Linked DNA regions of Homo sapiens. The protein of the gene in region 5 purifies or fractionates together with the protein of the main gene of each other region. This does not show direct contact. Each region holds a gene or a part of one and is shown on either strand. Other genes may lie near its edges. The genes, in order: PRKD2, PC, ACOT9, XRCC3 and TPSB2.

What was found.
Region 1: the proteins of TPSB2 (region 5) and PRKD2 purify together in Homo sapiens (affinity purification with mass spectrometry; 2 studies listed by BioGRID and IntAct, with this or other methods). This does not show direct contact.
Region 2: the proteins of TPSB2 (region 5) and PC purify together in Homo sapiens (affinity purification with mass spectrometry; one large-scale study listed by BioGRID and IntAct). This does not show direct contact.
Region 3: the proteins of TPSB2 (region 5) and ACOT9 purify together in Homo sapiens (affinity purification with mass spectrometry; one large-scale study listed by BioGRID and IntAct). This does not show direct contact.
Region 4: the proteins of TPSB2 (region 5) and XRCC3 purify together in Homo sapiens (affinity purification with mass spectrometry; one large-scale study listed by BioGRID and IntAct). This does not show direct contact.

What each region holds. Positions count from the first base shown.
Region 1 is NC_000019.10:46,673,816-46,678,951, reverse strand, and holds the end of PRKD2 (serine/threonine-protein kinase D2), read left to right. Parts: intron 1-288; coding exon 289-556; intron 557-1,495; exon of another isoform or gene 1,496-1,812; intron 1,813-3,833; coding exon 3,834-3,919; intron 3,920-4,216; coding exon 4,217-4,429; 3' UTR 4,430-4,636; downstream 4,637-5,136.
Region 2 is NC_000011.10:66,866,864-66,871,383, forward strand, and holds part of PC (pyruvate carboxylase, mitochondrial precursor), read right to left. Parts: coding exon 4,452-4,520; intron 4,335-4,451; coding exon 4,189-4,334; intron 4,030-4,188; coding exon 3,912-4,029; intron 3,591-3,911; coding exon 3,439-3,590; intron 2,102-3,438; coding exon 1,983-2,101; intron 1-1,982. UniProt on the Homo sapiens protein: Pyruvate carboxylase catalyzes a 2-step reaction, involving the ATP-dependent carboxylation of the covalently attached biotin in the first step and the transfer of the carboxyl group to pyruvate in the second.
Region 3 is NC_000023.11:23,737,991-23,744,715, forward strand, and holds the start of ACOT9 (acyl-coenzyme A thioesterase 9, mitochondrial isoform a precursor), read right to left. Parts: upstream 5,287-6,725; 5' UTR 5,155-5,286; coding exon 5,135-5,154; intron 1-5,134. UniProt on the Homo sapiens protein: Mitochondrial acyl-CoA thioesterase. Catalyzes the hydrolysis of acyl-CoAs into free fatty acids and coenzyme A (CoA), regulating their respective intracellular levels. Regulates both mitochondrial lipid and amino acid metabolism.
Region 4 is NC_000014.9:103,704,115-103,710,100, reverse strand, and holds part of XRCC3 (DNA repair protein XRCC3), read left to right. Parts: intron 1-1,441; coding exon 1,442-1,579; intron 1,580-2,885; coding exon 2,886-3,098; intron 3,099-5,986. UniProt on the Homo sapiens protein: Involved in the homologous recombination repair (HRR) pathway of double-stranded DNA, thought to repair chromosomal fragmentation, translocations and deletions. Part of the RAD51 paralog protein complex CX3 which acts in the BRCA1-BRCA2-dependent HR pathway.
Region 5 is NC_000016.10:1,226,697-1,232,678, reverse strand, and holds TPSB2 (tryptase beta-2 preproprotein), read left to right. Parts: upstream 1-2,494; 5' UTR 2,495-2,517; intron 2,518-2,727; coding exon 2,728-2,788; intron 2,789-2,941; coding exon 2,942-3,113; intron 3,114-3,222; coding exon 3,223-3,488; intron 3,489-3,615; coding exon 3,616-3,779; intron 3,780-3,864; coding exon 3,865-4,029; 3' UTR 4,030-4,343; downstream 4,344-5,982. Other genes in the region: uncharacterized protein LOC124903621, read right to left, coding at 5,439-5,982. UniProt on the Homo sapiens protein: Tryptase is the major neutral protease present in mast cells and is secreted upon the coupled activation-degranulation response of this cell type. May play a role in innate immunity.

The DNA.
Region 1 (5,136 bases), on a different chromosome or scaffold from region 5:
ACTGAATGCCAAATATTGTCCTGTGGGCTTTGGATGGTTTAATTCACTAACCATCATGGCAGTCCTCTGAGATAGGTGCTCTTCTGCTCTTCTTCCTATAGATGGGGAAACTGAGGCACAGAGGGGGGAAGTCACCTGCCCAGGGTTGCTCAGCTAGTGAGCCAAGGAGCCTGGATTCAAACCAGCATCCAGCTTTCTCTGGAATACCATGGAGGGTGGTGTGGTGGGGATGCTGGGGTGGGTGCGGCTCCATCACCTGGTGGAGCCTCCATCCCTTGCCCTCTGCAGGTGAAGCTGTGTGACTTTGGCTTTGCTCGCATCATCGGCGAGAAGTCGTTCCGCCGCTCAGTGGTGGGCACGCCGGCCTACCTGGCACCCGAGGTGCTGCTCAACCAGGGCTACAACCGCTCGCTGGACATGTGGTCAGTGGGCGTGATCATGTACGTCAGCCTCAGCGGCACCTTCCCTTTCAACGAGGATGAGGACATCAATGACCAGATCCAGAACGCCGCCTTCATGTACCCGGCCAGCCCCTGGAGCCACATCTCAGCTGGAGGTGCCTGGGGCCCGCCTACCCCATGGGCGGGTGGGTTGTGGGGTGGGGCTGGAGAAGTGGGCGGAGCCATGAGAGGGGGGTGGACCCGGAAACAGCCTGGCACCTTGGGGGTGGAGCCCAGTGCTGGGGCGGGCCTACTGGAGGGATGTGGCTACAGGAGGAGCCGTCCTGTAAAAGATGGGCTGGGACTCAGGCCTAGACTAGGTTACTTGGGCTGGAAACCAAGTGCCCCAGAAGCGCTGAGGACACTTGGAACCTTAGGGGGGCTGAGTGAGACTTGGCTTGTCTAGGGTGGGACCAGGAAAGGGACTGGACTTGAGGGTACCAAAGGGCTGCGGTGACCAGGAGAAGGGGCTGAGCCTCCCAAGGCATTGGCTGGGACCTGGAGCCTTTGGGTTTACGACCCCAAAAGGGTCAGCCTTGCAAAAAGGAGGCACCGGTGGGTAGGGTTGAGAAACAAGGGCATGGCTACTTTGCTGTGTACTGGGGCCGTGACTTGGGTGAAGATGGGCCTGAAGCCTGGGGTCGGTTCAGTGACCAAGGGAGCCAGTCTAGGGACGTGGCCGTGGAGGGTTTCCGAAGAGGTCCAGGAACAGGGCTGACCCTGAGTCCTGGAAGCTGGGAGTGGATGGGAGTGGGGAGGAGAAGGGAGCCAGGACTGAGGCAGACATTGCACTCTGCATTCTGGGGCTTTGGTGTTGTGGCTGGGCCTGATGAAGTGGCACCGGGCCTGGTGACTTGAACCTACTTGGGAATGGGTCTGTAACTTTCCCTGCTTGGAAAAGTTAAGTCCTAAGGCCTGGAGCTTTGAGGCTGGGTGTGGGATGGCATGTTTAGAGGGCCAGAGGCAGGGCTAAGATACTGGGGTGTGTCAGAAGCCAGGAGAACAAGGGACCTGTGTTGGAGCCAGGGAGCTCAGGAAGACAGATGGAGTATGGGAAGGGGGGGGATCATTCATTCATTTATTTATAACCATTTATTCAACAAGTACATTCATGTATTTGTAACCATTGATTCAACATGTTGAGTGCCCACGATGTGCCAGGCATTGACTGTTCCAGCTCTGGGAATACTGTGATGACTTGGACAGAAGGGGTCAGGTGCAGGGTAGCTCATTGAGTGGTCCGCGAAGGGTGGAAAGGGGAAGGGTCCTCTCTGGAGGGTGCGGCTTCATGGAGCAGGTGGAGCAGGGTGACACGGAGGTTGCTCGGTGCAGGACAAGACAAGGTCTTGGTGGTGGTCTAAGAGCATGGGCCCTAAGCAGTGAGAATGTGGATTGACTTGAGTCCTGGAGTAATATTGGGGGTGCTCAACACTGGCTTTTTTTTTTTTTTTGAGGTGGGGTCTCGCTCTTTCACCCACGCTGGAGTGCAGTGGCGTGATCTCGGCTCACTGCAACCTCCACCTCTTGGGTTCAAGGGATTCTCCTGCCTCAGCCTCCCGAGTAACTGGGATTACAGGCACACAGCACCATGCCTGGCTCATGTTTTATATTTTTAGTAGAGACAGGGTTTCGCCATGTTAGCCAGGCTGGTCTTGAACTCCTGACCTCAAGTTATTTGCCCGCTTCAGCCTCCCAAAGTGCTGGGATTGCAGGCATAAGCCATCACACCCCGCCAGCATTGTCTTTTGAGACCCACTCAGAAGTCCCTCAGTAAAAGTGCATCGAGTGTGCACAAGTGAATTTAAGTGTGGTTGCACCTGTGTGAGGATCACAGAATCCTGTGGGTGTTGACGGGAGCAGGGTGCCTGTGTGCACCAGGCCTCTCCTCGGATGGGTTCATACAGTGAAGCCTTGTCCTTCATGGCTTCCCATCAAGGAGAGAGCCTCGGATGAGTGCTGGCTTGTCTTGAAGCTTGACATTCGCTAGTCCTCTTTTTCACAATGAACAGGCCTATCTCTGAGCCTTCTGCAGGCAATGGTGACTAACTACCATCTGATGACATTTTGTTTTGTTTTGTTTTGTTTTGAGACGGAGTTTCGCTTTTGTCACCCGGGCTGGAGTGCAGTGGCACGATCTTGGCTCACTGCAACCTCTGCCTCCTGAGTTCAAGCGATTCTGCCTCAGCCTCCTGAGTAGCTGGGACTACAGGCATGCGCTACCATGCCCAGCTAATTTTTTGTATTTTTAGTAGAGACGGGGTTTCCGTGTTGGCCAGGCTTGTCTCGAACTCCTGACCTCGGGTGATCCACCCGCCTCGGCCTCCCAAAGTGTTGGGATTACAGGCATGAGCCACCGCGCCCAGCCTGATGACATAGATGCTCCCTGATTTGCACTGGGGTTAGATAAACCTGATAAACCCATTGCCCATTGTAAATTGAAAATATCATAAGTTGGTCAGGCGCAGTGGCTGAAGCCCATAATCCCAGCACCTTGGGAGGCCAAGGTAGGCAGATTGCTTGAGCCCAGGAGTTCAAGACCAGCCTGGGCAATGTATCTCTACAAAAAATACAAAAATTAGCCGGCCATAGTGACAGGTGCTTGTAGTCCCAGCTGGCTGCTCAGGAGGCTAAGGCAGGAGAATCAATTAAGCTGGGGAGGTGGAGGCTTCAGTGAGCATTGATCACGCCACTGCACTTCAGCTTGGGTAACAATGAGACCCTGTCTCAAAAAAAAAAAAGGAAGTATTGTAGGTTGAAAATCCATTTAGGCCGGGCGCAGTGGCTCATGCCTGTAATCCCAACAATTTGGGAGGCCAAGGCAGGCGGATTGCTTGAGGTCAGGAGTTAGAGACCAGCCTGGCCAATATGGTGAAACCCCATCTCTACTAAAAATACAAAAAGTTAGCAGGACATGGTGACACACACCTGTATTCCTAGCTACTTGGGAGGCTGAGGCAGGAGAATCACATGAACCCGGGAGGCGGAGGTTGCAGTGAGCCAAGATCGTGCCATTGCACTCCAGCCTGGGCGACAGAGCGAGACTCTGTCTCAATAAATAAATAAGTAAAAATAAAAAGAATAGTACAGGTGTAATTGTATGTACCTGTATATGACAAAAAGAAAAAAAAAGGTGACATAGGGGAATGGGGAAATTGAAGTAGAGAACAGGTGAAGAGAGGGAGCTGGTGTGAACATGCATGGGCAGGAGGAGACAAATTTGTAATGTAATGAGGAAATGGGTGGGTGAGTGATTGGCACAGGTGAGGCTTCTGAGCCACCTGAGCTGGTGCAGAAGGAAGGTGTTGATGGCAGGCAGGTAGGCTAGGGGGTGCCTATTGGAGGAGGAGTGACCCTTGACCTGTAGGGCTTGACCTGTTTCTCTTTCCTGTGCAGCCATTGACCTCATCAACAACCTGCTGCAGGTGAAGATGCGCAAACGCTACAGCGTGGACAAATCTCTCAGCCACCCCTGGTTACAGGTGATGCAGGGGGCAGGGCTGGCCCATTGGCTGGATTGGAGGAAGGGGTGGGAGTAGATCGCTTATTGGCTAGGCAGGTTGTGAAGGATGTAGGTTTCCTTGGGTCTGGAATGTGGCTAGGCCTCCCATTGGCTGGGTGCAGGAAGAGGGGGTGGAGCTAAATGTCTACTGGCTGGGTGGGTTGCAGAGGGTATGGCTTCACCTTCATTGGTACCCAGCTCTCAGTGGCAAACCAGAGGATATCCAGGCACTGCTCCAATGCAGACCCCAAGCTAACCCCAGTTCTCTCGGGCCCAGGAGTACCAGACGTGGCTGGACCTCCGAGAGCTGGAGGGGAAGATGGGAGAGCGATACATCACGCATGAGAGTGACGACGCGCGCTGGGAGCAGTTTGCAGCAGAGCATCCGCTGCCTGGGTCTGGGCTGCCCACGGACAGGGATCTCGGTGGGGCCTGTCCACCACAGGACCACGACATGCAGGGGCTGGCGGAGCGCATCAGTGTTCTCTGAGGTCCTGTGCCCTCGTCCAGCTGCTGCCCTCCACAGCGGTTCTTCACAGGATCCCAGCAATGAACTGTTCTAGGGAAAGTGGCTTCCTGCCCAAACTGGATGGGACACGTGGGGAGTGGGGTGGGGGGAGCTATTTCCAAGGCCCCTCCCTGTTTCCCCAGCAATTAAAACGGACTCATCTCTGGCCCCATGGCCTTGATCTCAGCACACGGCACTCTCGAATCATTACTCTGTTGTACCAACATGGAGTTCATCTGGAAGGAGGACTGCCTGAAAAGAGGAAGGATGGAAGGGGTGGGGAGAGAGGACTGATGGGAGAGGAGTCTTGGAAGGAGGACGAGCTGGGGTAGAAAATATACAGGAAGAGTGCCAGGAGAGAAGATGAGAAGGGAGAGGGAGGAGTAATGGAGGAGGAGTTGGAAACTGGGGAGAGATGGAAGGAATGTGACTGGAGGGTAGAGAACTTGGAGAAAAAGTAATCTCATGGTTTGTGATGACTGATTTTTTATTTGGTGGTGGTGTTACTACTAATCACAACTATTAATTCAGGCTGGGTGTGGTGGCTCATGCCTATAATCCCAGCAATTTGGGAGGCCGAGGCAGGCAGATCCCTTAGATCTCAGGAGTTTGAGAGCAGCCTGGCCAACGTGGTGAAACTCCCTTTCTACAAAAAGTTCAAAAATTAGCCAAGTGTGGTGGCTTGCACC
Region 2 (4,520 bases), on a different chromosome or scaffold from region 5:
CCTCGAAATGGTAACCACAGCTGTGAGAGGGTTGCACAGTGGGTGCTGGGTCAGGACCTGTCCTTCTGAGGCCTGTTTTCCTGCTGGACTTGTGCCCAAAACCCCCTAGAGATGCTTGGAGAGTGCAAGCTTCCCCACCTCTGCAGGGTTTTCCAAGCTCAGCCTTACTGCTCCTAAGGGCAGTCACAAGTCCAAGTGGAACAGCTGTTTAAAAAACAAAACAAACAAACAAAAAAACCAGGCTGGGCACAGCAGGTCATGCCTGTAATCCCAGCACTTTGGGAGGCCAAAGTGGGTGAATCCCACGAGGCCAGGAGTTCGAGACTAGCCTGGCCAACATGGTGAAACCCTGTCTCTACTAAAAATACAAAAATTAGCCAGGCCTGGTAGTGTGTGCCTGTAATCCCAGCTACTCAGGAGGCTGAGGCAGGAGAATCACTTGAACCCGGGAGGCAGAAGTTGCAGTGAGCAAAGATTGCACCACTGCACTCCAGCCTGGGTGACAGAGCAAGACTATGTCTTAAAAAAAACCACTCAAGGTTTTACATGTATTGCCACTGAGGCTTGTGGTGAAGGCAGCCTGGAACCTACACTGGCAGGATTTCCCCGTGTTCTTGCTGCCTGCTGGCCCACTTCGCAGCAGAGATGACAGCTTCCACTCAGTGCCACAGGCCAGGCTGCACTCCTCCCATGCTTCATCTCCACGACGGTGTGCTGAGAGCCCTGTCATTCCCACCAGAGGAGGAGCTCGAGGGTCAGAGAGGTTGGAGCTCACCCAGGCTCCACGTGGCTTGGGACCTGAGAGCACCTGAGCCCCAATCTGTCTGACACAAAACCCGTGCTCCACAGCAGACAGACTCCCATCCCTAACAGGACGCTCTAAGCAGACCCAAGACCGAGGAGTTCACAGCAGCTTGAGGGGAAGAGTCTCACTCGGCCAAAGTGTTGGCCTTGTCTCTAAGCTTCTCCTAAGGGGAGGGAGGGGCCTCCATGCCCCCGGCGAGCCACAGCAGCCACCCCGACAGCATCCTCAGTCTCAGGTGGGGTTGGGGCTGGGGGCAGAACTGGGGTCAGGGATGCTCCACAGTGAGATGGGCTGGCCCAAAGCAGCGTCAAGAAATTACATGGCTCATAGTAGAGACCTTGAAGGGTGAGGGCCATCATGACTGTCATTTAGAAACCAGGCGGATTTTGAAAATGTCATCCTCAGTGCCTGCAGGGAGCACGCTAGTGCCACCTCTCTAGAGGGCTGTTCCGAGGGATGCTACTTATCCTTCAATCAGATAATCCTGTTGAAGGGTTTACCCTCAGAACTCTTCAGAGCTGAAGCCAAACATTCAGGCACACAGATGATAAGTGACACGCTTAATAACCACCAAAGCCAGACACACAAACTAATTGCCTAACAATCGAGGACTATGTAAGTTAAGAAATACACACAAGACGGAATAGTACGCAGCCACTAAAAGTATTCAGACAGAATTATGGCCTGGGGAAATGCCTTCAACAAATATTAAATAATTTGAAAAGTAGAATAAAAATTCTATATAAAACATCTCTATTGCATCAAACTATGTCTCTAGTAAAACAGGTAAACCGGGAAAGGAGCAAACCAAAGACAGCCGGAGATGCCTGGGTTCCAGCGCCAGCTGTGTGACCCCGAGCAACTCTCCAAATGTCTCTGAGCCTTGCTTTACTCCTCTGACAGATGGGAGCACCTGGGCCTGAGCAATCGGCAGCGTCCTGACAGAGAGGAGGGCTGTCAGTCATTTTTATTTGCTCCTTTGTGCTGATTTTTATAATAACCACGTAATGCTTTTAGAATAATGACTTTTAAAACACTAAGTACCTGGATCCCCATTGCTCTCCACCAATGTGGGGAGTGAGCAAGCCCCCTGGCTGGCCCCAGGAGCCACTTCGCCTGTACTTTATGCAAATCCTAGAAGCCGCGCCTCCCGCCCCGCCTGCCCGCCCACACTCACTCGGTGATCTCCTCTGTGACCGTGTGCTCCACCTGCAGGCGGGAGTTGACCTCGATGAAGTAGTGCTTGCCGTGCCTGTCCACCAGGAACTCCACGGTGCCTGCGTTCTCGTAGCCCACCTGTGGGGGCGGCCACGTGAGCAGGGGAGGGCACAGGCAGGGCCTGGGCAAACTCACTGGACTCAGGACAGGGATTCCGTCCCACCCATTGGGTTGGTTCCGTAAAAGAATGGCCTGTGGCAAACCCTGCCCCCACAGATGGCAGACAGACCCCAGGGCCCAGGTCATGCTCCTGCCTGGACACGTCCCCCAAGTAGTCCACTAGGCTCCAGGGTTCCCGGAGCCACAGATGGCTGCACCCAGCTTATCTGGGACGAGACATGGGCAGAAGCCCCCACCCATCCCAGGCTCGGCACCTTGCCCTGCTGCCTCCTGGGCTTGCCCGCCAAGGCTGTGTCATCCACCCAGACACGGAGACCCAGGCCTCTCCCAGCCGCTGCTTCTGCTTGGAGGTGTTTTCAGAAAGTCCCCTTCTAGTCTACTGCGCAGTCACCTCTGGCCACCACCACCCAAAGAAATTCATTTGAGAGGTACCAACAGATAATGACTCTAACTCAAATTTCAGCCCTAATTCCAGTTTCACTTTTGGTCTCACCAAAACGATAAACCAGACTGAATCACCTCCCTTAAACCTGTTCTGGAATGTGAAATAGTATAAGCCAGTAAATAAGACCTGACTTAAACGCGACCCTGGTCGATGCCTCGCATTAGCTGTGGCTGAGGCCTTGCTGCAGAGTGCACACCCCGGCCTTCGGCATGGGGAGGTGACGCATCCTCTGCTGCCTATAGGCCAGGGAAGAAGAGGGGGCAGGACCCCGCTGCACACCTGGCCACAGCAGGTGCTCTCCAGGCCAGTCCTGGGGCAGGTCACTGTGGGGAGATAGCTTGCCACCTCAGCCTCCTCCACAGCCCAGGACCCCCCGACCAGAGGTCCCAGAAAAGCAGAGATGGGCAGAGGGTGCAGAGCAAGGAAACAGATCATAATAAACATGATGTAGGAGACAGAAGCACATGAGGGAGGACTGCCTTCATAATGGTCCTCAATCTTGACAGAATCCACGGAATCTCATTCTCCTGATGACAGGGATGAGCTGATGCCACAGAGAAGCCAGGTCTGTGTAGCAGCAGGGCTGAGGAGGCGGCTGGGGCTCCTTCCCTCCCTCTTCTCAGCCATCCTGGACTCTAAGCTTGGCCTCTGGGCCAGGTGCCTCAACTGCACATGGGAAGGATGCCACAAACCCACTTCTGGCCCCCAGGAGAGTCCTTCACCCTCTTCTCCCCATCCCCAGTCCCCAGAAGGGGACTCAGGGTCCCCTTCCCCAACCAGCGCCCCACTGTGAGGCCTGCCGGCCTGTGAGCACAGGCTCCTGTCCCAACACGGGAAGCCCACCCTTCACCTGTTTAGCGAGTTTCACAGAGTCGCTGGTGAGCCGAGTCCGAAGCTGCGGGTCCAGGTGGGCGGCGGGGGCAATCTCGACCACCTTCTGGTGCCGCCGCTGGATGGAGCAGTCTCGCTCGTACAGGTGCAGGATGTTCCCATACTGGTCCCCTGGGGAGGGAGGTAAACTGGGCTTAGCTTTTACTGGAATCTACACGCCTCCTAAATGCCCCATCACCCCCACATAACCACTGTCGCCAGTCAGTGCCGGCTGCCAGCGGTACAGAGGCTGCCAGGAGAGACACCAGCATCACCAAGGCTGTGAGGACCAACTGCCAGCTCGGCCCCTAGAGCCCACTTTCCAGAGTCCTCTGGAAAAGCGCCCGACAGGCCCCAGGGCTGTCCCCAAGGCCAGCCACTGTGACGGCACCAGGACTGGGCCTCTCAGCTCCCGCCTCCAGCTGCCCCAGGCGGGGCGTCAGGACCACTCACCCAAGATCTGCACCTCGATGTGCCGTGGCTTCTCGATGAACTTCTCCACAAACAGCGCCCCATTCCCAAAGGCGGCCAGAGCCTCTGAGTAGGCCCGGGTGTAATTCTCCTCCAGCTCCTGCGAGGGCGGGCAGGGGCCAGCCAGACCTCAGACCCCACAGCGCTACCTCTCCCCTGCCATGAACCCCACCCACTTTCCAGATCCCTTGAGTGGTCCGCCCCTGCCCCCACGGCAGGCTGCCCTGCCCTGCTCCCAGCCCTGGGCATCTTCACTCACCTCGTAGCTGTGCACCACCCTCATGCCACGCCCTCCACCCCCATAGGCCGCCTTGAAGATGATGGGGAAGCCGTAGGTGTTGGAGAACTCGTGGGCCTCATGCAGGGACGTGATGGGGGCATCTGTGCCAGGGACAACGGGAACACCTGTTGGGAGAAAGGTGTGGGGGAGTCTCTGTAACAGGCGGGAATCCCTGCCACCCCTCCCTGCTGGACCCTCTCCAGGAGCTGCGGGGCCACCCCTTGCTTGCCCGTTATATTCACCCGCAGCAATGGCGATGGCCCGGGCCTCCACCTTGTCTCCCATCTTGCGGACCACTTCTGGGCTTGGCC
Region 3 (6,725 bases), on a different chromosome or scaffold from region 5:
CCCGAGTAGCTGGGACTACAGGCGCCGCCACCGCGCCCGGCTAATTTTTTGTATTTTTAGTAGAGACGGGGTTTCATCATGTTAGCCAGGATGGTCTCAAACTCCTGACCCTGTGATCTGCCCACCTTGGCCTCCCAAAGTGCTGGGATTACAGGCATGAGCCACCGCACCTGGCCGTCTTTTTGTTTTTGACCATCTAATCTGCATTTTCTCAGAACGTGATTTGAATTTTCCATTTTTTTCATTATTTTGTTTTATGTATCTTCTATAGGTTCATATGCCTTACTGAAGGAAACAGAGTAAGTATTCCTTCATTCTTCCATCTCAGAAACAAGCAGCCAGGCATGGTGGCTCATGCCTGTAATCCTAACACTTTGGGAGGCTGAGGTGGGTAGATCACCTGAGGTCAGGAGTCCGAGACCAGCCTGGCCAACATGGTGAAACCCTATCTCTATTAAAAACATAAAAATTAACCAGGCATGGTGGCGCACACCTGTAGTCCCAGCTACTCTGGAGGCTGAGGCAGAATCACTTGAACCCAGGAGGCAGAGGTTGCAGTGAGCTGAAATGGCCCCATTGCATTCCAGCCTGAGCAACAGAGCAAGACTCCATCTCAAAAAAGAAACTAGCATTCTACAACTGAATATATCTGGTTTTAAAGAACACACTGGAAAAAGCTAATCCTTTCTATTGCTACCATTAGCTGAAAGAGCAAAAAAATCATGACCCCCAACACATTAATAGGAACTATAATAGACACGTTAAATGTATCCAACATAAGAAATGGGATCTGATTCTGAATGGCTAAATACCCTGAATACGCATCACTAACAGGAGCTATATAACCAGTCTCACATACCTGAATAAATACACATATACACAGAAATTGTTTTGTTACACTAAGAAGCAGCATTTTCTGAAGAGGGATGAAAATCATTCCATCCTGTTTGTGTGAGAGGCAATACAGTATAGGGGTTAACCCAAAGGCTGGGCGCAGTGGCTCATGCCTGTAATGCCAACACTTTGGGAGGCCGAGGCAGGCGTATCACTTGAGGTTAGGAGTTTGAGACCAGCCTGGCCAATATGGTGAAACCCCGTCTCTACTAAAAATATGAAAATTAGCTGGGCATGCTGGCGGGCACCTGCAGTCCCAGCTACTCGGGAGTCTGAGGCAGGAGTATTGCTTCAACCCAGGAGGCGGAAGCTGCGGTGAGCCGAGATCGTGCCACTGCACAGCGAGACTCTGTCTCAAAAAAAAAAGAGCCCAATCATGCTGCTTGTTAGCTGAGTTACCTTAGACAAGTTACCTAACCTCCCTGATCCTCAGTTTCCTCATCTGTAAAATGGGGATAATAATACTACCTATCCCATAGGATTGTCAAAAGGATAAAGGAATTAACACATATTAAACCCTGAAGGGCACGTCTAGAAGAGCATGTCTAATATACTGACAAGTCCTCAAAAATCTCTAGCTATCATTATTCCAGAAAGTCATGCTTCTCCAAAGTCTCCCCTAAAGATCAAAAAGAACCAGGCTGGGCACAATGGCTCACGCCTGTAATCCCAGCACTTTGAGAGGCCAACGCGGGAGGATCACTTGAGACCAGTGTGGGCAACATAGGGAGATCCCGTTTCTACAAAAAAATTTTAAAATATTAGTCAGGCGTAGTGGTGCACACTTGTGGTCACAGCTACTCAGGAGGCTGAGGTGGGAGGATCACTTGAGCCCCGGGGAGGTCGAGGCTGCAGTGAGCCATGATCGCACCACTGCACTCCAGCCTGGGTAAAAGAGCAAGACTCTGTCTCCAAAAAAAAAGGAAAGATAGCCTAAGCCAGGCACTATCACGGACCACTGCCAAACATAGAATCAAATGAGGAGAGAAAAGAAGGGAGTTAATGAATACAGAGAAACACTTGGGCCAATTTATTTGGAAAATTGTAGTCCTAGAGCCCCATTGCTTTGCATGCTGCCTTAAAAAATTTGGAAATACATTCCTGTGGCACAACAAAGGCATAATTGGAACACTTTTTAAAAAAATGTTGCTTATACCAATAGCATATTGGTAATAATAAATCTATATCATACTGTCAACATAGCATTCAAGAGTATTCGGGTAATGGTAACTTTTTTTTTTTTTGAGACAGTCTCACTGTCACCCAGGCTGGAGTGCAGTGGCAACATCTTGGCTCACTGCAACCTCCACCTCCCGAGTTCAAGCGATTCTCCAGCCTCAGCCTCCCGAGCAGCTGGGATTACAGCTGTGCACCACCATGCCCAGCTAGTTTTTGTGTTTTTAGTACAGACAGGGCTTCACCATGTTGACCAGGCTGGTTTTGAACTCCTGACCTCAAGTGATCTGCCCGCCTCAGTATCCCAAAGTGCTGGGATTATAGGCGTGAGCCACCGCGCCTGGCATGTAATGGTAACTTTTCACTACATTTGGTATCCTATTTACTGATAATCTGATGGAAACTGTGGACCTCGAGCGGGCGTGGGAAGGGTTGGAATACATTTTTGCTCACACACACAATGGTATATACTATTTCAGGAGGTGCACAGACCCTTTTTGTACCCTCAGATCCCCCTATATTTGAAGATTCTGATTCAAACCAACCTCCTTAAGAAACTGAGGCCCCAGTTTCAGACGACTTTCCCCCAGTGCCAGTCAACAGGCACACCAGCAGAGTCCAGATAGAGCCCAGTTCTTCCGATCTCCCCCAATACATACACACACACACACACACACACACACACACACACACACACACACACCGCACTGAGGTGGAGGAGGTGGGAGAATGGTTTTAATCAATACTCAACACTTCAGTACCTCAGGGTTACTGGCTTATCTCCTGATAAGCCCTCAGGAGTCTTACTTATAGCAAAACCTCTAGGCCTTTACTGTGGAGAGGCCTTTGCAACACTCAAATCCCAGGACCTTGTAACTGAACCTTTCCAATCAAAGGAGATCAAGAAACTCAAGGCGGGGGGAGTGGGGAGGGACAGCATTAGGAGATATACCTAATGCTAAATGACGAGTTAATGGGTGCAGCACACCAGCATGGCACATGTATACATATGTAACTAACCTGCACATTGTGCACATGTACCCTAAACTTAAAGTATAATAATAATAATAATAAAAAGATGATTATTACAAAAAGACAAAAGATAACAAGTGTTGGTGAGGATGTAGAGAAAAGGGAACCCTCGTACACTATTGGTGAAAATGTAAACTGGTACAGCCATTTTGAAAAATAATGAGGCAGTTCCTCCAAAAATTAAAAATATAACTACCATATGATCCAGCAATTTCTCTTCTGGACATATATCCCAAAGAAATAAAAAAAGTATTTCAAAGAGAAAAAAAAAAAAGAAAACTCAAGGCCTCCATGGCCTACCTGGGGAGTCACATAACTCACCCTGGCTCAGCCCTGGGTCCCAAGCTTACAGCAGTTGGCAAGGAAGAGTGTTCAGTGCAATAACAGGCAATACCACTCATATGCCCTCCACTCTGAGGAAATAACCTCTATTTAGAGACTAAACAAAGGTGCCTCTTGCAAGTCTAAAAAAGAAAAGAAGCTACAAAGGTTGCCCACCAGTCAAAGAACCTAATCATCTCAGTCTATATTCATTTGTGAACTCCTCCTCTCACTAGACACTAAGAGATTATCCGCTTAAGGTTCAATAGTTTTTTGTTTGAGACAGAATCTCACTGTGTTGCCCAGGCTGGAGTGCAGGGGCGCGATCTCAGCTCACTGCAACCTCTGCCTTCCGGTTCAGGCGATTCTCCTGCCTCAGCCTCCAAAAGTAGCTGTGACTACAGACATGCACCACCACTCCCGGCTAATTTTTGTATTTTTAATAGAGACGGGGTTTCACCATGTTGGCCAGGCTGGTCTCGAACTCCTGGCCTCAAGTGATCCATCCACCTCAGCATCCCAAAACGCTGGGACTGCAGTCGTGCACCACCACACCCGGCCTCAATAGAATTTTCAAGAAAGGAACACAGGGTTATAAGAGAAAGCACCTGAACAAGACCATGGAGCTTTTGTAGAAGACCTTTCACATTGCAAGCTAAAGTCAACTGTGGCCCCTCTCATAATGACTTTCAGTCTGCCTTCAAATAGTTTAACAAAGGTTTTTTGTTTGTTTTTAAGTACTATAAACAAGACAGAACCCTTACAACTGATAACAAAGTCCCCAGGAACAGTGAGTGAGTGAGAGAGAGAGAGAGAGAGAGAGGGAGAGAGAGAGAGAGAGAGATATCCAGGACCCCCAAGAGAATTGATGGGGTTAATGTGAGTCAAAAGCACTATGAGTCACATCAGGGGGACAGGCCCACTGGCAGCGAGATAACTTCAGAAACTGGAGCAGGTGTGAGCCCCCTGGGATGCAGCCAGGCAGAAAACTTGGAAAGGGTGGCATGCTCGGGTGAAAGGGATTAGGGAGAGCTAGACACGCTCTGGAGTCTAAGGCCCTCAGGCCTTAACTGTGCCAGCTGGGAAGATTACATATACAAAAAGGCATCCTCCCTTACCCACGTGGCCCAATCAAAGCACCCAGCCTCTTATAAGGGCTTTGCGGCTCATTAAAGTTAAGTTCAAATTGGCACCAGGGTCCTAGACGCACAGTCCTAGGGTCCTGGGAGCCAAAAGGTACCCTGTAATCTCTGCCAATGTTACAACAAACTTAAGTAAGAGCCGAAGTAGGTCAAGCATTTAATCCTAAAAATGTTCTCCAAAGGAAGATGAAGGGCTAGAGGTAACATAGAACTCCAAATATTATCTTTCTGACAAGGGGCTACCCCGACGCGGCTACCAACCACACCCCGGATGAGCAAGGCCAAAGGAATTTTAGGGAACACCCAACTTCCTCCCTTAAAAGTGCTGCTTTGCTTTTAATATCAAACTCAGTGCTAGAAGTCGCCAAAGTGGGGGCGAGGTTCTCCCAACCAAAGGCCGGCGGGCTTATGTCCGGTCGGAGGTACAGTGGGCGAGCGCCCCTTATCATAGAGCCCAAATGCCCATGCGTGGCCCACTTCTTCCGCCGGGGCCAGCCCGAAGCTCTAGGGGAAGACGATGGCACCCCAGGCTACCGCCCTGCCAGCCCCTTCCACGCCCCGCCACCTACCGCAGTGCTGCCCGCCTCATTGCGCTAGGCTGCCGTGCGCGCGATGGAGAACCGGGCCCCGCGCGCTAGTCGGCGGAGGGAAACTGAGGCGATAAAAGACGCACGAGTACCAGACCGCGCCCTTGCTGAGGACAGCCCGGGAGCCGGACAGCGGTGTCCGGGGGCGGGACCGCGGCGTCCAGGGGGCGTGGCCGCGCTGTGCCGGGCGGACCCTACCCGTTCATTGGCGGGAGGCTGGAGTCCGCCTCTGCGGAGCTTCCCACTCAATCAGTTGTGCGGGTCGTGTTGCTACAGCGAGGACCGGCCTATTCTCGGTTGAGTAAACGAACCACGCAGCAACGCCAGGGCGTGACGTCGAGAAGAGGCCCGGCTCTGCCTAGTGGAGCTTGTCTCCTTTATCCTTGATCCCCGCGCCTTGGCTCCGTCTGTTCTTCCCCTTGGCTGCACATTGGAATCTCCTGGGCAACTTTCCAAAATACTGATACTTGGCCGGGCGCGGTGGCTCACGCCTGTAATTCCAGCACTTTGGAAGGCCTAGGCGGGCAGATCACCTGAGGTCAGGAGTTCAAGACCAGCCTGGCCAACATGGCGAAACCCTGTCTCTACTAAAAATTCAAAAATTAGCCAGGCGTGGTGGCAGACGCCTGTAATCCCAGCTACTCGGGGGACAGGCACGAGTATCGCTTGAACCTGGGAGGCGGAGGTTGCGGTGAGCCGAGATCGCACCACTACACTTCAGCTTGGGCGACAGAAGGAGACAATGTCTCAAAAAAAAAACAACAAAAAACTGATGCTTGAGACCCACTGGCTGGAGATTCTAGTTTAGTCCTGGGTGCGGTCTGGGCTTCGGGATGATGTCTAAAGATGCCCCCAGGTGATGCTAATGTAACCAAAGGCTAAAAACCACTGACCTAACAGGAAAAAATTGTTCCTCTCCTCTTCTCGGCCTGACCCCCAATGTTTGATATCTTGGGCGAGCTAGAGAGATTCAAGGCCAGAGAGTTTAAGATTATTTCACCCTACGATCTAATTCTCCATTTCTTTCAACGAATTATTATTGAGCTGTTTGCATTGTGCCAGGCACTATTGCAGAGGTTGGGGTTGCAAAAAGAAAAAAGGACAAAAATCCCCGCCCTTAAGGGGCTTGCCTCTTGATAAGGAAGGAAAACAAATCAACAAACAAGTTAGCAAATAACATGATCTCAAATATGGTAAAGCGGTTTAAAGGGGAAATAAGGTAACGAGTGGGGATCTTTTGAGAATATAAGCAAGTCTTGCTTTGCCTCTAAATACGGCAATTTCCTAAAAGGCAAGGGCCATATGCTTTTTCGCAATACCCCATACTTAGTAAAAATGTATTGATTTGAATTAAGCTAGCTTTCTGTTTTGAATCACTTCATGAGTTACACATGGAGCATGGTCTTCGGCTTTCTCTTTCTACTGAATTTTCCCTGCTTTTATCAATCTCACATCTGGAAGACTCCCCTTTTAGCCTACAAGGATCTCTCCTTCATTTTTGTTCACATTGTCTTTTCATTTTTGTCACATTGTTCACATTGTTCACAAGTCACTTTTCAGTGATTGTCTTGTT
Region 4 (5,986 bases), on a different chromosome or scaffold from region 5:
ATGCCAGCCGCCTGGCTGTCATCCGGGGACCCTCCTGCCAGCTTCCATCCTCCCCCGTCTCCCCGGGCCTCAGCTACGTGAACCTCAGCACGCTGTCTGTGGCGAGAAGCCGGAGTGCTCATGGAGCTGCCGCAGCAGCCTGGTGACAGGGCAGGGCCTCGCTGTCCTGACCCTCCATCCTTGGCTGTTGGTTTTTATCCTCCTGTTGGTGGCCTTGTGATCACAGCTGCTGCCACAGCTGCAGACACGACGCTTGCAGACCAGGGACAGAGAAGGGCTCAGCCAGGGAGTTCCTTTCTCACCTGTGTCTCTTATCCAAAAACCAATGTTTCCAGAAGTCCCTGCAGACTTCACGGCTGTGAAGGGGGCTGGGGCTGTGAGGCTTACCAGGGGGAGCGCCCTGCCACAGCCCCGATCCCGGTGAGTCCTCAGGGCCCACAGAGCCTTCTGGAGCAGCCTGTCTGCGGGAAGCCCCCTCCGCTGGATCTGGTGAAACCCAGGGGCGCTTTCTTCATTCCCACCCTTCCATCTCCTTGTGTTTTCTGTGTGGCTTTTCTGAAGATCACACCAGTGCTTACTGTTTTCCAGCCGCACAATGGTTGTCTTTTCACTGCAGCGTTCAGCGCACCCGTGTTGAGGGGGTTTCTGATGTGGTGGGTGTAAGTCCCCGTGGCCGGGTGGGGCGCTTCGTCCACCACTGCTCCCTCTCGTGTGCGCTTCCTCGCACTTCCCTGATCGGCTGATCAGTCTGCAGCATTTGTCGTCTTTCTACAAGTTTGAAATTAGAAAGTGATGCACTTATCTGAGTCCAAAATTAACTTCCTTGCCCTCCTCCCCAGATGGCAGGTCCTGGGGATCTGCACCCCTGTAACTGCTGCCACCGCCGTTCTGATTCGCACATGCTCTGCCCCCTGCCCTGACTGCCCTGCGCAGCTGGCGTTTGGACCTGGGCTCTGCTACCCTCCCAGCGCTCCCCTCCCCAGGGCACATGTCCTCTCCCGCGGCTCAGCCCAGATCCATGCCTGGTGGGCGGGTGGTGGAAAGCTCGGTGCTGGTTTTTTCCTGCCCCCTTCTGGAGCACTGTCTCCAGCTGGCATGGAACTGGGTGCCTGTCGTTTCTTCTCAGTACCGGAACCTGCTCTCAGCACCGGGACCTGCCCAGCCCTGTCTTCTGGCTTCTGCCCCAGCTCACGAGGCTGGTATCTGTCCGAGTGCCAGGACTCAGGGCGCAGTGTCCAGCAGCCCTTTCCTCGTGCCTGTGCATCGGCCACACTGTGTCCAGGGTTTCCAGGGAGCAGGGGATCCGGTCCCTACCCACCTTGTCCCCAGAATCGGAAGCACGGTGCTCTCACAGTGCTCTTAACAAAGCACCTTTTGTCACTGTGTTGCCCTGCGTTGTGACAGTCTGACATTTTCCTGTAATTTATCTGTGTTATTTCAGCCAAACTGAAATCGGTAAAGGAGGTTTTACACTTTTCTGGACCAGACTTGAAGAGACTGACCAACCTCTCCAGCCCCGAGGTCTGGCACTTGCTGAGAACGGCCTCCTTACACTTGCGGGGAAGCAGCATCCTTACAGGTAGGTGGGCCCTGGCATCTCTGCCAGGGGTGACATGTGGCTCCAGCATCATGGTCCCAGTGGTGCAGGGCAGGGGCTGTGCAGACTTCACCCAGGGACCAGCCTCAGGGCGTGTGGCAGCTGCTCCAGCCCCAGAGTTCCCATCTTGCTTGTCCTACACCCATGGGGCTGTGGTCACAGCATCGGGTCAGAAGATGCGTGAGGTGGACACGGGCTGTGGGACCTCCTGGGGACCTTGCTCCATGGACCAGAGGAGGGGGTGCAGGAAGCAGGGGTGGATTTGGCAGTCAGCACCCAGAGCCCTTCAGGCTCTGGCAGGGTGGGAACGGTGTGAGATGGGGCCCTGGCCACGGTCCCACCACCACGTGTGGGAAACCAGGTCTCAGCAGGGGAAGGAGGTACCCAGGGAACCCCATGCGCCTGGACGGACAAGGTTTCCATCCCTGCATCTCAGCAGGCCCTAGTAGGCAGCGGGGTCCTGGCATGAGCAGGGCCCTCTCTCCCCTGCAGGTGGCTCAGTGGCCCAGGCCCCGAGGAACGTGCTGAACTTGGGGCTGCCGTGGTGGGCAGGTGCCACGGCCACACACACGGTGCTGTGGGCAGGGCTCTGGGCAGGCCTCACAGTCAGGGTGGCCTGCTCCACCTGGACGGGGTGCCCAAGGCAGTGTGCAGACTCCAAGGGAGGGGCTGCTCCTCCCGGCCCAGGCCCCAGGCCAAGAGCGCAGCCTGCACCGCATGTCCCACCTTGAGCCTTGCCCTGAGGGGCTTCGGTGTCGTGGAGGAGGCTGTGTCAAATGGCTCATCCAAGGCCCTTTAGCCAAGAGGCTGAGACCAGCATTGCTCCAGAATGGTATCTGTCACAGAGAACTGACGGCATGTGGTGTGCATGTGTGCGCGCCTGCGGGAGCCCATTAAAGCCGCTTGAGAACTGTTCAGCACCCCAGGGCATCCCAGCTGGACAGAGCTGTGCCTTTTTCTTCACATGGAGGCTGTTAGGGAGCGCCTCGGGGCTCTCTGGAAGCTTTGGCTGAAGGCGTCTGGTGCTGCAATTGCCCCATAGGGGGATCCCTGCGGGCATGTGATGGTGGCCCTGGGGCTCCCCCTGACTCTGCATCTCAGGTGCACCCGCCCTTCCCGGCTGGGCCCCCCTCCCTGCCCTCAGCACCTTGCTCACCCCCATGACCGCAGGCACCTGTGCTCCAGCCACACTGCACCTGGCACAGGCAGGCTGACCATGCCTCCCGCAGTCCCCAGCCCTGCCCGCAGGCCCAGGAGAGTCAGGCCTGACACTATCCCTGCCCTTTAGCACTGCAGCTGCACCAGCAGAAGGAGCGGTTCCCCACGCAGCACCAGCGCCTGAGCCTGGGCTGCCCGGTGCTGGACGCGCTGCTCCGCGGTGGCCTGCCCCTGGACGGCATCACTGAGCTGGCCGGACGCAGCTCGGCAGGGAAGACCCAGCTGGCGCTGCAGCTCTGCCTGGCTGTGCAGTTCCCGCGGCAGCACGGAGGCCTGGAGGCTGGTGAGTGGCCACCCCTTCCGTGGGGTCTGGGCAGGTGGGCGGCCCCTGCTTTGTGTGGGACAGCTTTCCGTTGAGGTGGGGCAGTGGCCGCCTCTTGCGCTGTTCCTACCATTGCGTCTCCCTCCTTCTCACCCTGATTGCCCTCGCTCCTTCCAGAACAGGGAGGGGGAAGTGAGGCTGGGCTCAGCTGACAGCAGGAGGGGTGGGAGGGTACGAACCCCACCACCAGGCAGCCGGCCCTCAGCAGAGCTAGGCCCCCAGGGGTCGCTGGCTGAGCACAGCGATGCCGGCCCACGTTCCGCACAGCTGCCAAGCCCAGAGTCCACAGAGCCAGCAACGCAGGGAGGGCAGCACAGCCTTTCCCCGGGTGCCCCGCCGCCAGGCCAGGTATGCTCCTGGCGCGGCCCCGTGAGCCTGTACGCTCTGTCTGTGAAACGAGGGTTCCCTGCATTGGACTAAAGCGTTCAGAGCATGCCTGCCTGGGTCTCTCAGGTGTTAAAAGTTCACGTAGTTTTAAACTGTGAGCTGTGAGGAGGAGAGATGTTTCTCAGTAGCTCCTTAACTTTTAAACTAATTCCCTGGTGTCAACATGCGATTCCCACGTTGTCTTAAACTCCACGTGAACAGAGTGGCAGTATTTTTTCATCGGTGGCACCTCCGAGCACATCTGCTAGGCTCACTTCCCACACAGGGCCGGACCCCAGGCCCTGGACCCACAGGCCCAGCCAGCCACCTCCTCACGGGCCTGACCTGCCAGCAGCGGTGTGGCTGGGAACCTCACCTCTGCCACCCTCAGGTCAGCGTCATCCCCAGGACCCAGGGTGTGCTGTGCCTGCCTGAGCTTCAGTGCTGGGTGGAGGGTGAGGGGTCTCCTGAGCCTCCGTGTCGGGTGGAGGGTGAGGGGTCTCCTGAGAGCCCAGCTGGGGTCTGCTCACGCCACAGGCATTTTTGTCCCTGCAGCCCAGGGGAGGGCACCCTCTTGTCAGGTGCCTGAGTCCCTGCGGCTGGTCTTGGGGATGAGCCTGGAGACAGCCAGAAGCCGGGAGGACAGGAGTTGGCCTTGAAAATGGGAGTCTCCCGCTTACCGCACGGAAGAGCTGCTGTGAGGTGGAGGCGGGACTCGAGCGTGCTCAGGAACGGGACGGGAGCCGCCCTCATTCTCCAGCGTCCTCCGTGCCAGGCTTCGTGCAAATCTGATTTGTGCAATGACTCCCCCTCAGCTTCCACCCCGTTGGCCTTTTCAGTGAAGCCCACACTCCCCGATACCCAGGGACACAGAAGCCTTAGGACACCCTCCCTGAATCCCCCAGCTGTGCCCAGCCCAGTGACTGCTGCGGGATGACAGCACAGTCCAGCCTTGCGGGCCAGGGGAAGGGAGGGGGCCCCACGGCCACCGTGACCACATGCAAGGTTAGGGGTCAGATGTGCTTTCCTGGGGAAATGACTTCCTTTCCTGGATCCAATCTAAAGGCCCGAATTTTGAAAAGAAAGCGGCAGGCGGGCTCTGAAGTGATTCCGACTCCCGTGCTTAAGCCGCGTGAGGCTCTCCCAGGCCTGCTGGGGCCCCGCCCACCGCTGGGCTGTCCACAGCCACCCTCCTGCCAGCTTCACGATGTCCCCATGACTGTGCAGCCCCTACATAACGTCACCCCAACAAAAACACGCTGCTTGACCGGTTCCACCTGCTTCCGAGCCTTCCAGCCCAGCCTCTCTCCAGCCAACAGGACGGAGGAAGCCCAGGGCCCCGACCTTCCTGTGGCTCCTGACTAGGGGCACAGTCACTGCTGGGGACACTGGTGGGGAAGGGAACCAGCCACAAAAGGGATGTGGCCTCCCAAGGCAGTATTTATACGTTCCTGGCCTCAAGCGGGCCAGATGCTTCTCAGAAGCTTAGTTCTGACACAGAATGGGGCGGGGGGTTCCTGACCCATTTTTGCAACTCTTCTTTACGTTTGAAATTCTGTCAAAGCAAAATCAGCTCAGAATTAAAGGTTACGCGGACACTCACAAACAGGCTGCATGACACGGCGTGGGGGCACTGGCTCTCCCACAACTGCATGTGCCACTGCAGGAACAGGACGACGCCCCGTGGGCCACGGGGTCCTGGCTGGGCAGCCTTCCTGGCATAGTCAGTGCTTAGAGAGCTCGCCGGCCTTGTCTTTTTGTTTTTGTTTTGCAGGAAACTGGAGTTTTATTATTACTCAAATCAGTCCCCCTAAGCCTTCCTGTTTTTTAAATTGAGATGTAATTTACATGCCATAAAATTCCCTCTAAAAGTGTACAGTTCGGCCTGATAGGCGCAGTACCTCATGCCTGTAATCCCAGCACTTTGGGAGGCCGAGGCTGAGGCAGGCGGATCATGAAGTCAGGAGTTCGAGAGCAGCCTGACCAACATGGTGAAACCCAGTCTCTACTAAAAATACAAAAATTAGCTGGGCGTGGTAGCGCACGCCTTGTAATCCCAGCTACTCAGAAGGCTGAGGCAGGAGAATCACTTGAACCCGGGAGGCAGAGGTTGCAGTGAGCCGAGATCGCACCACTGCACTCCAGCCTGGGCGACAGAGTGAGTCTCTTGTCTCTCAAAAATTAAAATAAAATAAATAAATTCAGTGGCTTTTAATAGAAGCACAAAGTTCTGTGCCCGTCACCACTATCCAATTCCAGAACAGTTCCCTCACCCCAAAAGGAAACCCTACCCATGAGCAGTCAGCCCCCACCCCCAGCAGCCTGCCTCCCCTTTCCCTACCTGTGACTCTTCCTGTCCTGGGAGCTCCATGCAAGTGCAGCCGGACAGCACGTGGTCTCGTGACAGGCTTCCTGCATTGGCATTGTGTTTTCGAGGTTCATCCGTGCTGGAGCAGGTGTCAGAACTGCCTTCCCTTTTAAGA
Region 5 (5,982 bases):
CCCGCGCGCACTCCCGGACTCCGCCCCTCTCATCTGGTGGTTCTCGTTTCCGACGCGGCTCCCACGTCTCTCTGCATCTCCGGCACTCGGCCGAGGACGCCGGGGGGAACCCCCTGCGGATGCCCGGAGCTCTCCGTGCAGTTCTCCGCCTCGTGAGTCATGGCTGCCGGGGCCTCTGCACGCGCCAGGTGCGTCTCCCCAGCCCAGCAAGCTCCTGGGGCTGAGTTTCCCATCGCTGCCCTGAGTCTGGGCGCGGCCACTGTCGTCTCACCCGACTCCCCACCCTTCTCTCGGGGACACTGCCCCACGTGGCCTCTTGCCCAGTGTCTGTCAATGGCCTGGGACCCCAGCCCTGCAGCAGCCCCAGGGGAGCGGCCGGGGATCGGGGCGGGGTGCCCAGGACGCGCCCTGATTGGCCCAGTGTTAGCCAATCAAGGCTCTCGCATCCCCATGGTGCTGATTGGTCCGCCTCCCAGGCCTGACCCAATCGGAGCATTCCTAGGAGGAGCGGCCCCAGAGCCCCTGACTCGGGGGTCCCAGAGCCCTCTGCACACCACAGCCCCGGTGTCCCCGTGTGTCCCTGGGTTCTCCCAGCCCTGGTGTCCCCTGAGTCTCTTCTTCACCGTCAGCCCTGGTGTCTCCCGTGTCCCTGCCACACCCTCATCCCTGGTGTCCCCCGTCACCCCATCCCCTCACCTCCTGGGCTCCTGAAGGTCCCATCTTGTGGGCCTCATTCATGGAACCAGGACGGGGCAGGTGGAGGCCTCTGGGGAGTTTGTCCAGAGAATGGAGGAGAAGCAGGGTCATGAGCAGGAGCGGTCTGGGCCACCCCTGCCTGTCCCCCGGGGGGTGCAGCCCGGAAGGAGTCCAGATGCATATGGCCCCGCAGTGCAGAGTCAGCCCCAAACCAGGCTGGTCCCAGGCAGGGTGGGGGCAGGAGGAGCCCTGGAGTGGCCCTGTGTTGGGGGTCGGGGGGCAGGCAGGGGGTCCTGGGGCTCAGAAGCGGAGGAGGTGGGCTGGAGGCCCCAGTGACCAACAGGCCCAGGGGAGTCAGGAGGTGGGGTGGACGGACCTGCAGGGACAGTGTCAGCGCTGAATGGGATGGAGAGCACAGGGAGCTGGGGCCGGGGGCAAGTCCACAGGGAGCTGGGGCCGGGGGTGAGACCATGGGGAGCTGGGCTGGGGCTGGGGGTGAGACCATGGGGAGCTGGGGCCGGGGGCTGGGACTAGTCCATGGGGAGCTGGGCTGGGGCTGGGGGTGAGTCCATGGGGAGCTGGGCTGGGGCTGGGGGTGAGACCATGGGGAGCTGGGCTGGGGCTGGGGGTGAGACCATGGGGAGCTGGGGCCGGGGGATGGGACTAGTCCATGGGGAGCTGGGCTGGGGCTGGGGGTGAGACCATGGGGAGCTGGGCTGGGGCTGGGACTAGTCCATGGGGAGCTGGGTCTGGAGCTGGGGGTGAGACCATGGGGAGCTGGGGCCGGGGGCTGCGACTAGTCCATGGGGAGCTGGGCTGGGGCTGGGGGTGAGTCCATGGGGAGCTGGGCTGGGGCTGGGGGTGAGTCCATGGGGAGCTGGGGCTGGGGCTGGGACTAGTCCATGGGCAGCTGGGCTGGGGCTGGGGGTGAGTCCATGGGGAGCTGGGCTGGGGCTGGGGGTGAGTCCATGGGGAGCTGGGCTGGGGTTGGGGGTGAGTCCATGGGGAGCTGGGCTGGGTCTCCTGGGGTTGCACCTGCACTCCTGTCTGCCCTTCCCTCTGCCGATGAAGCTCAGATCCCATGATAAGGAGGCACCTGCAGACCAGGGGTCCTGCACGGACAGCCCCAGAGGTGGACATTGAGGACTCGTAGGAGGACTTGGGTCTCATACGGCGGGTGGGGAGCAGGGCCCCTTCCTGGCTGAGGACACTTGGTGCTGTCCCCTCTCAAGGCTGTTTCCCCATCTGACAAAGGGGTCTCATGTGAGCCTCCCACCAAGTGAGTCGAGGAGGGCTGGCGCCACCCCCGTGGATTCGGAGTCCGTAAGAGGGGTGTCACCCGTCATGTCCCCACCCCGTGGGCACCTTCCCGTCTCTTGGAGGGTGGCCCATGGACATGAGTTCCTCACCCCGTGTCCCTCTTGGGGAAACAGGTTTCAGGAGCGATGGGTCTTGTAGCCTGGGACAGCCAGGCCACCTGGGTGCAGCAATGCCTGAAGGCCTCCTGGCACCGAGACAGGGGCAGGAGCAGATCCCACCAGCGGGAAGGTGGTGGGTTCTAGTGCTGGGATCCACCAGCTGACAGGTGGAGCTGCCAGTCTCCAGTGCTCAGCCCTCAGCGGGGCCTGCCTGGCAGCCCCACACACAGAGGGCATCGGGGTGGCGGGGGCACGTGTTACACGGGGGCCCTGGGTCTGAGTCATCCACTTCCTCCGAGTCTGGATGGGAGGACCCAGCGCCCCTCCTCCGCCCCCTCCTGATCTGGAAGCATAAATGGGGAGGGGAGAGCCCACTGGGTAGAAGGAACAGGGAGCGGCCAGGGTAAGTCCCCACTCTCAGAGACCCTGACATCAGCGTCACCTGGAGCAGAGTGGCCCAGCCTCAGACTCAGAGCACCAAGACCCAGGCCTGCAGGCCTGGACCCACCCCGGTCCCCCCGTCCCAGCTCCATTCTTCACCCCACAATCTGTAGCCCCCAGCCCTGCCCTGTGAGGCCCGGCCAGGCCCACGATGCTCCTCCTTGCTCCCCAGATGCTGAATCTGCTGCTGCTGGCGCTGCCCGTCCTGGCGAGCCGCGCCTACGCGGCCCCTGGTGAGTCCCAGCCGGGGTCCACCCTGCCCCTCACCACATTCCACAGGTCAGGGCCTGGGTGGGTTCTGGGGAGGTCGGGCTGGCCCCCACACAGGGAAGGGCTGGGCCCAGGCCTGGGGCTGCTTCCTGGTCCTGACCTGGCACCTGCCCCAGCCCCAGGCCAGGCCCTGCAGCGAGTGGGCATCGTTGGGGGTCAGGAGGCCCCCAGGAGCAAGTGGCCCTGGCAGGTGAGCCTGAGAGTCCGCGACCGATACTGGATGCACTTCTGCGGGGGCTCCCTCATCCACCCCCAGTGGGTGCTGACCGCAGCGCACTGCGTGGGACCGTGAGTCTCCCGGGGCCTGGAAGGGTGGGGAAGGGCTGGATGTGAGCCCTGGCTCCCGGGTGCTCCTGGGGGCTGCCCAGGGCCCTGAGTGGGATCCTCCGCTGCCCAGGGACGTCAAGGATCTGGCCGCCCTCAGGGTGCAACTGCGGGAGCAGCACCTCTACTACCAGGACCAGCTGCTGCCGGTCAGCAGGATCATCGTGCACCCACAGTTCTACACCGCCCAGATCGGAGCGGACATCGCCCTGCTGGAGCTGGAGGAGCCGGTGAACGTCTCCAGCCACGTCCACACGGTCACCCTGCCCCCTGCCTCAGAGACCTTCCCCCCGGGGATGCCGTGCTGGGTCACTGGCTGGGGCGATGTGGACAATGATGGTGGGTCTGGGGACAGTGGAGGTGGGGCCAGGGTCTTAGCCACAGCCCAGCCCCTGGGCTCCCTCTGGGCTCCAGGTGGGGGTTGCCCGGCCCCCTCCTGAGGCTGCACCCTCTTCCCCACCTGCAGAGCGCCTCCCACCGCCATTTCCTCTGAAGCAGGTGAAGGTCCCCATAATGGAAAACCACATTTGTGACGCAAAATACCACCTTGGCGCCTACACGGGAGACGACGTCCGCATCGTCCGTGACGACATGCTGTGTGCCGGGAACACCCGGAGGGACTCATGCCAGGTGGGCCCCGCCTGTCCCCCGCCCCCCGCCCCCCAACCCCCACTCCCAGGCCTGTTCGGCGAGCGCTGACCTCTGACCTTCCCAGGGCGACTCCGGAGGGCCCCTGGTGTGCAAGGTGAATGGCACCTGGCTGCAGGCGGGCGTGGTCAGCTGGGGCGAGGGCTGTGCCCAGCCCAACCGGCCTGGCATCTACACCCGTGTCACCTACTACTTGGACTGGATCCACCACTATGTCCCCAAAAAGCCGTGAGTCAGGCCTGGGGTGTCCACCTGGGTCACTGGAGAGCCAGCCCCTCCTGTTCAAAACACCACTGCTTCCTACCCAGGTGGCGACTGCCCCCCACACCTTCCCTGCCCCGTCCTGAGTGCCCCTTCCTGTCCTAAGCCCCCTGCTCTCTTCTGAGCCCCTTCCCCTGTCCTGAGGACCCTTCCCCATCCTGAGCCCCCTTCCCTGTCCTAAGCCTGACGCCTGCACCGGGCCCTCCGGCCCTCCCCTGCCCAGGCAGCTGGTGGTGGGCGCTAATCCTCCTGAGTGCTGGACCTCATTAAAGTGCATGGAAATCACTGGTGTGCATCGCTGTGTTTCTGGTTGTGGATGTCACTGGGAGAGAAGGGGTCCAGGTGTGCTGAGGACACCTGCCACAGTGTGAGGTCCTAGCCCTCAAGGCACAGCCAGTCACCGTGGGACGGGGCCTCCTGGGCAGCCCTGGTCCCCGAGGCTGGCTTCTCCCCACACGATGCATCCAGCATTCGGGTCACACAGAGCCACTCGGGCAACTCAGTTGATTATAAAGGACAGCCAGGTCCCTGCAACCGGGTCAAGACAGAGAATGGTCACCGGGAGCCCCAGGGCTGCCCATCACGAGCCCCTACCCCACGCTTCCCACGAGCTCTTCTCCCGGCCCCTCCGTCCACTGCTTGTGCTTTGCCTAGTTGTTTGCTTTGAGACGGGATCTCGCTGTGTCATCCAGGCTGAAGTGCAGTGGTGTGATCAGGGCTCACTGCAGCCTTAACTCCTGGGCTCAAGCGATCCTCCCATCTTGGCCTCCCATATAGCTGGGCCACAGGAGTGAGCCACCACGCCCAGTTAATTTTTGTATTTTCAGTAGAGATGGGGTTTCGCCATGTTGGCCAGTCTGGTCTCGAACTCCTGACCTCAAGTGATCCGCCCGCCTCGGCCTCCCAAAGTGCTGGGATGACAGGCGTGAGCCACCGCACCCGGCCTGAGTTTGACATTTTCAAATTCATTTTGAGGTCTTTCTCTACATCAATAGGTGAGCCCTCTGCGTCTGGCGAGTGTTGCATTTTATCCCGGGCTCTTGTTTGCATTTTATATTTGAACATGATTACACTCAGGAATGAAATGCGGGGCTGTTCTGGTTGAAAACAACTCTCTAAAGAAACATTCACTCTTTCCTTCCAACTGTTAGATGCAGAGATGTGCATTTAGTCTCCCGAATCTCTGCAAATGACCTCTGTCCTCACAAGGGGTGGACTCAACTCCCAGTGCCCTCTCCAGCCCCACGTGACCTCTGCCTCTGCAGCCCCTGAAGGCCCATCCCTCGGCTCCTGTTCTGCAGGCCCAGCGTCTTGTTAATGAAGATGGACCTGGAACTCGGGCCCTTCTTCCTCCCTCTGGCCCATCCCACCTTCTAGGGATCACAGAGACAGCACGGGGTGACCCCCAGGGAACACTGAGCCCCTAGAAGCACTTCCACACGCCCACTGGAGGTTTTGCGGGGTGGGAGTCGGAGGGATGAGACCCCGAAGGGAAGCAAGACGGCCCCTCAGGACAGGGCTGCCGGTGTAAGGAAAGGTGGACAGCAGGGGCCGGTCACTGGGTGGAGGGGGAGGGCGGGCTCCAGCCCCAGAGCTTCCCAAATTAGATCTAAGATCCCTGGGAAGCTCAGTGAAGCTCAGCCCAGTGACACTGGCAGATGTGAGCGTCAGCTTCAGCAGGAAGGGTCTCTCAGGACGTGGCAGGCAGGCTGCTGGCCAGGGCTGCAGCCACCTGCGTTTTGACTGGGACGGGGGCACCTGCTCCAAGGTCACCCACGTGGCTGCCGGCAGGAGGCCCTGGTTCCCCGTCACAGGGGGGTGTGAGGCGGAGGGCGAGTGGGGGGGACAGGGTTCCCACCGAGGGGACGGCACCCAGGTGGCCAGGCCACCGCAGACAGAAGCAATCCCAGGTCTCCCAGGGTCC